Linked DNA regions of Homo sapiens: all the other regions are linked to region 1. The links come from fine-mapping of genetic effects on gene expression. A gene starts in region 1. Each other region holds a variant in brackets. All regions are shown on one strand. Distances are from middle to middle. Region 1 holds the start of ZCCHC17 (zinc finger CCHC-type containing 17). Region 2 overlaps ZCCHC17 (zinc finger CCHC-type containing 17). Region 3 overlaps NKAIN1 (sodium/potassium transporting ATPase interacting 1). Region 4 holds the start of NKAIN1 (sodium/potassium transporting ATPase interacting 1).

What was found. PIP is the estimated chance that this variant, and not a neighbour inherited with it, causes the effect. A credible set is the group of variants that fine-mapping cannot tell apart.
Region 2: its variant is the best candidate, but not a certain one, in a credible set for the expression of ZCCHC17 in whole blood (INTERVAL, PIP 0.68).
Region 3: its variant is the best candidate, but not a certain one, in a credible set for the expression of ZCCHC17 in fibroblasts (GTEx, PIP 0.55).
Region 4: its variant is the best candidate, but not a certain one, in a credible set for the expression of ZCCHC17 in whole blood (INTERVAL, PIP 0.64).

What each region holds. Positions count from the first base shown.
Region 1 is chr1:31,295,876-31,298,559 of GRCh38, reverse strand. ZCCHC17 (zinc finger CCHC-type containing 17) reads right to left here and starts at 1,528. Exons shown (of 8, transcript NM_016505.4): 1 at 1,485-1,528. SNRNP40 (small nuclear ribonucleoprotein U5 subunit 40) reads left to right here and starts at 1,772. Exons shown (of 10, transcript NM_004814.3): 1 at 1,772-1,949. The coding sequence starts at 1,809. RefSeq lists an enhancer at 1,794-2,003.
Region 2 is chr1:31,319,038-31,321,721 of GRCh38, reverse strand. ZCCHC17 (zinc finger CCHC-type containing 17) reads right to left here. Exons shown (of 8, transcript NM_016505.4): 3 at 2,556-2,613. Among named protein-coding and RNA genes, the nearest start is that of ZCCHC17, 23 kb to the right of the region's middle. The variant G/A (reference allele first, on the strand shown) is at 1,313.
Region 3 is chr1:31,233,396-31,236,079 of GRCh38, reverse strand. The region is part of intron 1 of NKAIN1 (sodium/potassium transporting ATPase interacting 1); the gene reads left to right. Among named protein-coding and RNA genes, the nearest start is that of NKAIN1, 5.1 kb to the left of the region's middle. The variant ATAG/G (reference allele first, on the strand shown) is at 1,395.
Region 4 is chr1:31,237,411-31,240,094 of GRCh38, reverse strand. It overlaps NKAIN1 (sodium/potassium transporting ATPase interacting 1), which reads left to right and starts at 208. Exons shown (of 7, transcript NM_024522.3): 1 at 208-601. The coding sequence starts at 548. The variant C/T (reference allele first, on the strand shown) is at 1,329.

The sequences.
Region 1 (2,684 bases):
TACAAAAATTGGCCGGGCACAGTGGAGGCGCCTGTAATCCCAGCTACTGGGGAGGCTAAGGCAGGAGAATTGCTTGAACCTGGGAGGTGGAGGTTGCAGTGAGCCAAGGTTGCACCACCACACTCCAGCCTGGGCGACAGAGCAAGAACCTGTCTCAAAAAAAAAAAAAAAACAAAAAAAAACTGGTCTCTAATCATCTTCTAGTGTTCCCTATCCAGCTTGAGGGATTCCGTGATAGTGAGTGAATGGTACCACCATCTATTCAACTACATAAGCCAGAAACCTAGGAGTTACCTTTGATTCCTCTCTTCACTCCCTAAAATCAACCCATCACCAAGTCCCACCCATTTTACCTCCTATATACCTCTAGAATCTGTCCAATTCTCTGCAGTTCCACCCATATCTCAGTCCTCACTGACATCTCTGACCAGGATTACTGCATATCCCAAGTGGTCCACATACATCGACTAGGGCTTCCCCAACCCCCGTCTGTTCACACCACTGAGCCTGAGGGATCAAGTCCCCTCCTCCACCACACCCCACTGGGGGAAGACGGCTCAGTGGTATCTCATCCGTTTTAAAATAAAAGCTACAAATTCCTGCAAGGTCTGACCGCTATCACGTACAGCTTCATCTTGTACCATACTCCCTTCATTCTCTTTGTACCAGCCACACTGGCTCTTTGTGCTTTTAGTCATTTTCCTCCCAAGTGCCTCAGGGCTCTGAACAAGTAGTTCTCTATGGAAGGTTCTGCCTTCACTTCTTCACCTAATTAATTACAACACTTCCTGCAGCTACCAGCGCAGGCATCTTTTCCTCTGAAAAACCTTCCTGCTTATTTCAGGCACTCATAGCATCAGGCAGCAGTAGGAGGCATTTCCATGTATTAGTGAGGTCATTGTTTAACGTTTTCCCCACCAGAGTTAAACGCCCTGAGAGTAGGGACCGTGCCCGGTTCACAACATACCCCCAACGCGCTGCTAAATGAATATCAGCAGGACGACTGAGGCAATGACCACGTTCATGGGCATGAGTCTCAAATTTCTCAACAAGACTGTGCTCTGGAGAAGGAGTCGGACATTTCCTTCATCACTGTCTCTCTCAGGGGGGCATACAGTAGGCCCTGATCAAAAACTGCAAAATCAGTGGCAGAAACAAGTCAGCCTCCTCGGCCAAATGGGGCACCGGAGGAGGCTGGGACGCAGGCCTTTCTCCCTGGGAATGCCCGGCACAGGACTGGCCACGATGGGCGCTCTTGAAGAAGGGAGCCGCAGGGGCTGGGTCTTGCCGCCAGAGACCCCAAGGCTCCGCTCCTGCCCCGAAAGGGAGCCCAGGCTACTACTTACCACAGCTGGGGACTCGGGGCCCGCCTCCCACCCCTTGCTGTCAGCACCCTCAGCTGAGAAGGGCAGGTTCAGACTGCACAACCGAGGCGTCGCCTCCAGACTCAGGCAGCCACCCACCCCGTTCTTCCTCATACGTACTAGGCGTCAGCTCCAGGTCCCCGAGTCGCTGCGCTGAACTAAACGCCGACCCCAGTCAGCCAGCGCGTTTCCACCCACAAGACCCAGCGCGCCTAGGGCGGTCGCCAGCTCCGTCCACCAATCCTGGTATCGCACTCTCATGACGTCAGAAAGATATGCCCAATAACAAGAGACTATCCGAGGGCGGTGCAAATGGAAATATTGAAAGCCGATTGGTTCTTCCAAGCTGGAAGTTGTGGAGGAAGGACTAATTTGGAACCAATTGCGTGGCGCCTGAGAGCGGCAGCGCGGTCAGTGGCGGCGCTGAAGAGACCGGTTGCCGCCATGATAGAACAGCAGAAGCGTAAGGGCCCAGAGTTGCCGCTGGTTCCAGTCAAGCGGCAGCGGCATGAGTTGCTGTTGGGAGCGGGGTCTGGCCCAGGAGCCGGGCAGCAGCAGGCGACGCCGGGAGCCTTGCTGCAAGCGGTAAGTGAAGAAGCAGGCGGCCTTTGGCCCTCAGCTCATCTTCCTCCCCTCAGAGCGCTGTATCTGGTGATCCCTGACCCTTTCCCGCATTGCGGGGGCAGAACGAGAGTTTCTACGCAGAGTTAAAGCACATAAACACTGTAAAAGCTCCCCATAGCCTGCGAATGCTGCGTACGTGTTCCCCCGTTTGGCGCCCGTTTTCAGCCTCTCGACTGCCCTGAGATAGCATTAGAATTAGAGTTGAGGACCTTGGGCTCAAAACCCTGACCCGGGTTTAAGCATCCTGACTCTAACATGGATCTGGCATAGAACAAAAATTCCGAAGAGTGTGTAGAATGAATGAATGAGGGAGGGAAGAAAAAAGGGAAATGATTTGTGTTGGCTCGTTTTGGGACTTTGGGCAAGTTGCTTTTCCCTTTATTTCTCTGCACTAGTATTATTAACAACTAAATAGCAGCTAACATTCATTGACTCTTGTACTAAAGTGTTTCGTATATGAAATTTCCATTGATCTTGGTAGCAGCCTGTTAGGAACGTTATTAACCCATTTTGCAGATGGAAAAACAGACTTACCAAGTACGTGATAGAAGCAGATTTCGAACTGAGAAACCATGCTCCTAACTACATTTTTTGTAAGATAGAAATAGTGATCACACTTCTAATGTCCTGTTTAGGCTCAGACGAGGAAATACGAGTGTCCTCACATCTCCTCAATAAATCCTGCTGGCACCGTCC
Region 2 (2,684 bases), 23 kb before region 1:
GCTGAGGAGGGCAGATTACTGGAGGACAGGAGTTCAAGACCAGTCTGGCCAACATGGCAAAACCCTGCCTCTACTAAAAATTAGCCGGGTGTGGTGGCACATGCCTGTAATCCCAGCTACTCAGGAAGCTGAGGCATGAAAATCACTTGAACTCAGGAGGCAGAGGTTGCAGTGAGCCAAGATTGCACCATTGCACTCTAGCCTGGGCAATAGAGCAAGACTCTGTCTCAAAAAAAGAAAAGGATTTTGTATTAGTCTGTTCTTACACTGCTAATAAAGACATACGAGACTGGGTAATTTACCAAGGAAAGAGATTTAACTGACTCACAGTTCAGCATGGCTGGGGAAGCCTCAAGAAACTTAACAACCATGGGGAAAGGGGAAGCAAACACATCCTTCTTCACAGGGCAGCAGGAAGGAGAATAAGTGCCCAGCGAATGATGGTTTTATAAGGGAAGCCCCTTATAAAACCATCAGATCTTGTGTTACTATGATGAGAACAGGATGGGGCAAACCACCCCCATGATTCAATTATCTCCACCTGGTCCCTACCACAGCACATGGGGATTACGAGAACTACAATTCAAGATGAGATTTGGGTGAGGACACAGCCAAAATATATCAGATTTGAATAGACATTTCCCCAAAAAAGATATACAAATGGCCAATAAACCCAAGAAAAGAGACTTAACATCATTAGCTATTAGGGAAATTCAAACCACAATGAGATGTCCGTGCACATCCATTAGGATGGCCATACCCAGAAAGATAATAACAAGTGTTAACAAAGATGTAAAGAAAATAGAACCCTCATACATTGCTGGTAGGAATGTAAAATGGCGTGGTCACTTTGGAAAAACAGTTTGGCAGTTTCTCAAAAAGTTGAACATGGAGTTATCATATGACCCAGTATTTCCACTCACAGGTATATACCCAATGAAAGCAAATATCCACACAAAAAGTTGTACACAAATATTTATAGCAACATTATTCATAATACTAAAGAAGTGGAAACAACCCAAATATCCATCAACTGATGGAACTGCAATAAATTTGTAATGGCAATAAAAAAGAATTAAGTACATATTATAAAACAGATGAACCTTGAAAACGTGCTAAGTGAAAGAAGTCAGTCACAAAAGACTATATACTGCATTATTCCATTTACAAGAAATGTACAAAATAAGCAAATATACAGAGACAAAGTAGAATAATGATTGCCTAAAGCTGGGGGCATAGAGAGAATCTGGAGTGATGGCTAATAGGTACAGGGTTTCTTTTTGGGGTGACAACAATGTTCTCAAAGTAGATC[G/A]TGGTGATGGTCACAAAACTCTGAATATACCAAAGAAACCACTGAATTGTACACTTTAAGCAGGTGAAATGTGTGGTATGTGAATCATATCTCAAGTAAAACATAAGAATGTTATATAAATGGAATCATAAAGTGTATAACCTTTTGAGATTAGCTTTTTTCACTCAGTATAATTTCTGGAGAGGGATGATCCAGGTTGTTGCATGTATGAATATTTTATTCTCATTCCTTTGTATTGTTGAGTAATATCCCATTATATGAATCTACCAGTCTAAGTTACTTTTTAGTCATACGGAGAATGAGTATCTTTTACTATAGTACCAAGTAATATTTTTTTATCCTGTGAGTTGTTTTTCATATCCTTGGCACCTTTTCCTAATACCCCCTTTGTATTAGCTCTTTATCATATGTACTACAAATTCTTTTTCCAAACTTAACTCTGATTACAATGATTTTTGCAGTGAAGTTTTTAATTTTCATGTAGTGAAATATTCTTCTAGATTTTCTTCTAGTATTCTTATGGTTGCCTTTTTTTAAAATGTTAAAATCTTTAATTAAACCTTATTTTAGCATAAGAAGTTAGCAAGTTGAATCTTTGGATCCACCAGCAGTGTGATATAGTAGAAAGATCCAGGGGCTAGGAATCAGAAGGATTGGGTTCTAGTCTTGGCTATGCCACTACCTAGCCAAATCACTCTGGGCAGACAACCGGTCTGTGGAACCTGCCTTTTCGGCTTAACATAGTTTTGGTAAATAAATAAGATTATAGATTTATAACAGGATTCTCAAAAAAATGTTCAACAGACGCCTCTTTATGAAAAAAACTTAAAACATTATATATATTATATATGTTTGTATCACTTGCAATACTATTCCCATTTCATGCGCTATCTACTAGAAAACTCACACTGTCAGCCTCAGACAGAGGTAGCTTGCCCTCCCGCAAATCCTGTGTCTAAAGAAGTCAAGTGATTTGCCTAGGGTCACAGGTGAAGTCTAAGGAGGAGCTGGTTTCAGAAGTAAACCCAGTTAGCTATACCCCAGTCTTCCTCCTGAGTCAGAGACCACAATTCTCTGCCCGCTAAAAATGAACTGTCATCTTGTATTCATATCTATACATTAAAAAGAAAACAAAGGAATGAAAAACTACTGTCTGAAAAATGTACAGCCTATAATTAGGAGGTGGTGGAGTGTTAGCAGAGAGTAGAATCAGAGGGCTGAATTTCAAGTTATAAACTCCTACCTTGCTTCCGACAGCCTGGGATTTTGATAAAGGCCCCATAGTCTGTCACCATAGCAACCTATAAAGATGGGGGAAAAAAATCAATGTCACATACATGAGAATCTTTCTTCTGTAGCATTTAACCTAGTC
Region 3 (2,684 bases), 62 kb after region 1:
CAGTTCCTAATCCTTAGGGTTGTTGTGAGGACTCAGTCCATATAATGAATTTAGCACTCTGGCAGGTACAGAGTGAGTACTCATTAAACTGTAGCTTATTGTTATTATCTTAATGATTCATATCATGGGATGTGTCTGTGGCACTGTAGCCCAAACATATCCAGGTGACCCCCTGCACTGTCCTTTGTGGACTGTCCTTTGTGGGAAGTAGCAGGTAGTTGGGCACTGAGCTGAGAGGCAAAAGACCTGGATTTAAGCCTGGCTCTGCTTCTGACATCCTGCAATTTGGGGCAAGTCTCTTCCACACTCTAGGCTTTGGTTTTTCCATCTGTAAAATGGGAGGCATTATTGGTCTGGCTCGCTGGGATCCTGCCAGCTGTACTTGTCAGGAACTCAGGGTGGTGCCTGGACTGGCATGTTTTGTTTATTTATTGTTTATTTTTTAGAGATAGGCGTCTCACTGTGTTGCCCAGGCTGGAGTGCAGTGGCAATCATAACCCACTGCAGCCTCAAATTCCTGAGCTCAAGTGACCTTCCCACCTCAGCCTCTCAAATAGCTGCAGCCTCAAATCCCTGAGCTCAAGTGATCCTCCTACCTCGGCCTCTCAAATAGCTGGGACAACAGGTGCATGTCACCACACCTGGCTTTGGCATGGCAGTTTTGTTGCATCTTGATCCGGTTCCTTTCTGTAGAACATCTTGGGTCCCTTGCTTTCCAGAATTCTTTTTGGTGTATCATTTTGACAACATTATTAACATATTCACCCTCTAATTTTTAATCCCGTGCCTTTTCTCTCTCCTTTCCAAACCCAGCTCTTCCTTGTTCACCTCCTTCCTGAAACCTTACAGGCCACTCTGTTCTTCCTGGAAGGGGATGAACCAGTGAGATTTGCCCTAGGGAATCCCCATCAATTTCTTCATCATCATCATTATCATTCCCATTTCAGGAGTCCTGTGCTAAGCACTTTATATGCATTACCTCATTTAACCAAATGAGCATACATATGTAAAGTGCTTGGCAAAGTGCCTGGTGCATGTTAAATGATCAATAAACGTTAGCTCTTTTACTGCTTTCATCCTTCTTATTGCAATTCCACACAGTGGGGTAGATGTGTTTATTATCCCCTTTTTCAGGTGAGGAAATTGAGGTGCGAAGGGGTGTGACGTTTGCCCAAGCTCGCTAAGCTAGTCAGTGACAGAACCAAGATGCGAGGACTCTTCTGTCTGAACAGAGAGCCACCCTCTCAGCCCCGTGCTACTCTACTGCTCGCGTTTAACCAGTGCTTGACCCCAGACAGGTCCAAGCCTGCGTTTCCTCATCTGAAAATGAAGATGATCATATTTCGATAGCCTCATGTGTAGTGCCTGCACTGTGAGCCAGTGAGTGCCCAATA[ATAG/G]ATCACTGCCATGGTTGTTTCTGTCCCAGCTCTGTGTGACCTTGGACACACGCATTCACTCCTCTGGCCACAGTTTCTTCCTTTGTAAAAGAGGAAGAGTCATCTCTAGCCCACAGAGTTGTAGAAAGGGCTTCCTTGGCCAGGTGCCAGACACATAGTAGGTATTCAGAAAAATGTTGGTTTCATTCTTTTCCCTTCTAGAAAGCTCTTTGCTTTCTGGAAGGTGGGGGCGGGGGGCGGGATGTAGCTTCCAGCTGAGCTGCGAGTAATGGTGTGAAACATGGTCAACCTGATTGATGTCGTTATTAGCAATAGTGACGGCGAAGACCAAAGGGAGATGGGCTCCAGCAGGGGCCTGCACTCTGGAGCAGCTGCAGCTGCAAGCTCACGGCTTCCTCGGGAGGGTCTGGTTCTGCTTCGGGTGCTTGAGGTCCTTGGGCCGGGTATCAGAGTCAGGAGCGTGAAATTATGCAGGCCACTGGCCCCTTTTGTTCCTCATACCCCTTTGGACAGAGTTGGCAGGGATGATCAACTCCCTTTTGTGAATGAACAGACTGAAGCCAAACTGCCCTCGAGGCCCTTATGAGATGGGCGGAGCAGGGTAGAATGGAGAAGAAGGCCTCCAGGGGACCTGGGGATGGCCCTGGTTCTCCTCCTTTATAAGGGTAGGTGAGTGGATGGTTTTTAAATAAGCAGCCCATAAATGGCAGCTTCGCTGAGATCTGGCACAGGGGCTAGGAGCACTACATCTGGGATCAGGCCTTGCTTTGTGACTCCCAGGAAGTCCTGCACCCTCTCTGAGCCTCTGCCTTCTTACTTACAAAGTAGTCAGAAAAACAGCTTCTACCCCACGAACGAGCCCATGGCAGTTTGGGGAATTCGCAAGTTGATGCCGGGATAGCCAAGTACGGTCCCTGGCCTAGGAAAGTGCTCTCCAGGGCTAGCTATGATTTGCCTTGAGACTTGGACAAGTCACGTCAGCCCCATCTCTGCCTGTATTAGAGGATTTCGTGATCAGGGTCATTCCCACAAACACTCCAGCTCTTCTTTATGTGGAAAATATGGGGCTGAGTGGGAAATTAACATAATGAGAATTTCTTTTTGTTTGGTGTCTGCTATGAGCCAGGCATTGTACTAGGCATTTTATATATGTCTCTTGCTACTGTGTGGCTTATCCATGGCCACATAAATGATAGGTGCAGAATGAGTATTCAAACTCAGATCTGGGACTCCACAGCTTCTCCCTGCATGCCCCATTGCCCCCTGCTAGTATTGTGGGACGCTGGA
Region 4 (2,684 bases), 58 kb after region 1:
CTAAGCCCGCACGCACTCTTCCACTTCACTCCCTGCCTCTCCAACCCTCCACCTCCCTATCCCTCTCCCCTCCCCTCCGGCGGCTCCCCCGCCCCACCCCTCTGCCGTTCCCCCCAACTCCCTCCCTGTCGGTGGCGGCGGCGGAGCCACGTGGTGGGGCCGGGAAGCCGCGGCCGACGAGAGCCCGGGCGACTGCCCCAGCTGGGCAGTGCTGCTCTGCGCTGCGCCGCGCTCGGGGCTCGCTCTCCTTGCTCCGCGCTCCCCGCCAGCCGCCCCGGGGCAGGAGGCGCGCCTGACGGACGGCCCGCTAGACAAAGGAGGCGCGGCTCGGCGGGGCCAGCGCGCGGACGGACGGACCATGGACTCGGAGCGCGGGCGGCCGGCCCCAGCCTTGGGGACCGGACACTCCCGGGCCCGGCCCTAGGCGCCCGGCCCCGCCGCCCGGCGCGCCCAGCGGGGAGGACGTGGAGCCCGCGCGGCGCGAGCAGGCGGCGGCCGCGGAGCAAGAAGGGCGCCGCGGCGTGCGGCCCGCGCAGCCCCCGGAGCCATGGGCAAGTGCAGCGGGCGCTGCACGCTGGTCGCCTTCTGCTGCCTGCAGCTGGTAAGCGTCGCGTGCCCAGGCAGTCGGGGCAGGGTGGGGCGCGGCGGGGCGCGGTCCCAGGGCGTGCGGGTGGGGTTGCGTGTGTCTCTGTGTGTGTGTCTGGTGCGTGTGCCCGGGCGGGGGGTGGTCTGGAGTCTCGGAGCGGTCGGGCGGAGCCTGCTCCCGCTGGCCGGGCTGTCTCTTTGTGTGCGCTTCTCGCTGCTGTGCCCGGCGCTCCTCCGGTCCCCAAGTGCGTCCTGTGCGCGAGTCCCCGGCCCGCCCGCACTGTACAAGTGGCCTCCTGTTGGGGGATGCGCTGTGGGACGGTGGCTTGCTGGGACTGGGGGTGTGTCTGAGGCTGATCTGTGGATCCGTTGAGGTCCTGCTGTGTGTTTCCCTCTAGATCCCTCGTTTGCATGGGTCTCTCCCTTCCTCTGGGTCTCTGCCTCTGATCACCACCCCTGTGTGAGCGTTTCTCACAAAGTCTCTGCTCCGGCGTGTGTCTCTCAGGGTTTCTCTTTGGTGTGTCTCTAAATCGCTGACCATTTCTGGCCCATGTTCATCTGTGTTCTGGGATCTTAGACTCCAAGAACCCTCCAATCCTTTGTGTTGTTTCTGCCTCCCTTCACCTTCCTGACCGGGCAGTCCTGGGAAAGGAGAGCCACCTCCCTGGAGAGGGTCACCAGGAGCTGCCAGATCCTGGGCCAGCCTGACCCAGCCTGGACCACACTTCCTGCTTTGGTCTGGC[C/T]GCTGTGGCCATGGGGGTTCCATCAGTCATCAGTTCCACCCACCAGAGCAGCTCCTCTGCCGGGGCCAGCAACAGTGGGGATGGGGACACTTGGGTGCCCTAGGGAGGACCAGAGCATCTGAGGACACTGTGCCTAGCCCCAGCATAGGGAACTCAGGTTCTTGTCTCAGGGAGGAGTGACTGTAGTGGACTAGAAGAAACAGCACTGCCCTTCAAATCAGGCCCTGGCAGGGGAATTTGGGAGGGTGGTTAAGGAGAGGCAGGGGTCTCCTACCTACCCTAGAGCTGAGATTGAACAACTAGGGAGGTTGAAGCTGTGCTTCTCCTCTAGGCAGAGGTGCATGGGGACCTCCATCGCCGAACCCAGGTCTGAGAGTGGGCAGCGAGGAGCCTGAGCCCCCCTCATGCTGGACTCCTTGTTCTGGGTTTCCACTCTTGCCTGCATCCATCACGCCCTCCCCACCACAGGAGCCAATGATAATGTAGAGTGAAGTTTTGAGCCTGGACATGCAGACCTCCTCATTCGTCTTGCTTCTCTCCTCCTGGGGACACCAGCTTCAAACATGCCATCCACAGACCTGGCCTGGGCAGTGGTGGAAACAGCCCTAGCTCTGGAGATTGTAGCCCTGCTCCCAGCTGTGGGAGACTGGACAAGTGACTTCCCCCCACTGGCCGGCCTCAGTCTTCTTATCTGTAAAATGATTATCCCTGAGGATTGCAGAGGGAATTAATTAAGATCAGGTGGAATGGGAACTCCAGAAGGGCAGAGATTGTCTGTTTTTCTTTATCTACTTTGAGGAACATGAAATGCCAAGAAATGTTTAAACCTTTCAGAGGATTCTTCTGTGTTTGTTAATTTTTTAATTTTAAACTAGGGGTTTTTTTTAATTAGAAAAGTAATATACATATATTGTAAAAAATAAATACATACATAATCAAACAGGACAGATAAATAAAAAGTAAGTTTTCTAGGCCAGGCATCGTGGCTTATGCCTGTAACCCCAGCACTTTGGGAGGGCGAGATGGGCAGATCACCTGAGGTCAGGGGTTCGAGACCAGCCTGGCCAACATGAAGAAACCCCATCACTGCTGAAAATACAAAAATTAGGGGTGGTGGCACGCATCTGTAATCCCAGCTACTCGAGAGGCTGAGACATGAGAATCACTTGAACCCAGGAGGCGGAGGTTACAGTGAGATGAGATCACGCCGCTGCACTCCAGCCTGGACGACAGAGTGAAACTGTGTCTCAAAAAAAAAAAAAAAGTTTTCTTCTCTCTATAACTAGACCCCTCCCCAAAGGTGAACCTGTTAGCAGTTTGTCCCATGCTCATTCTCTGTTGGCGATAATAACGGTT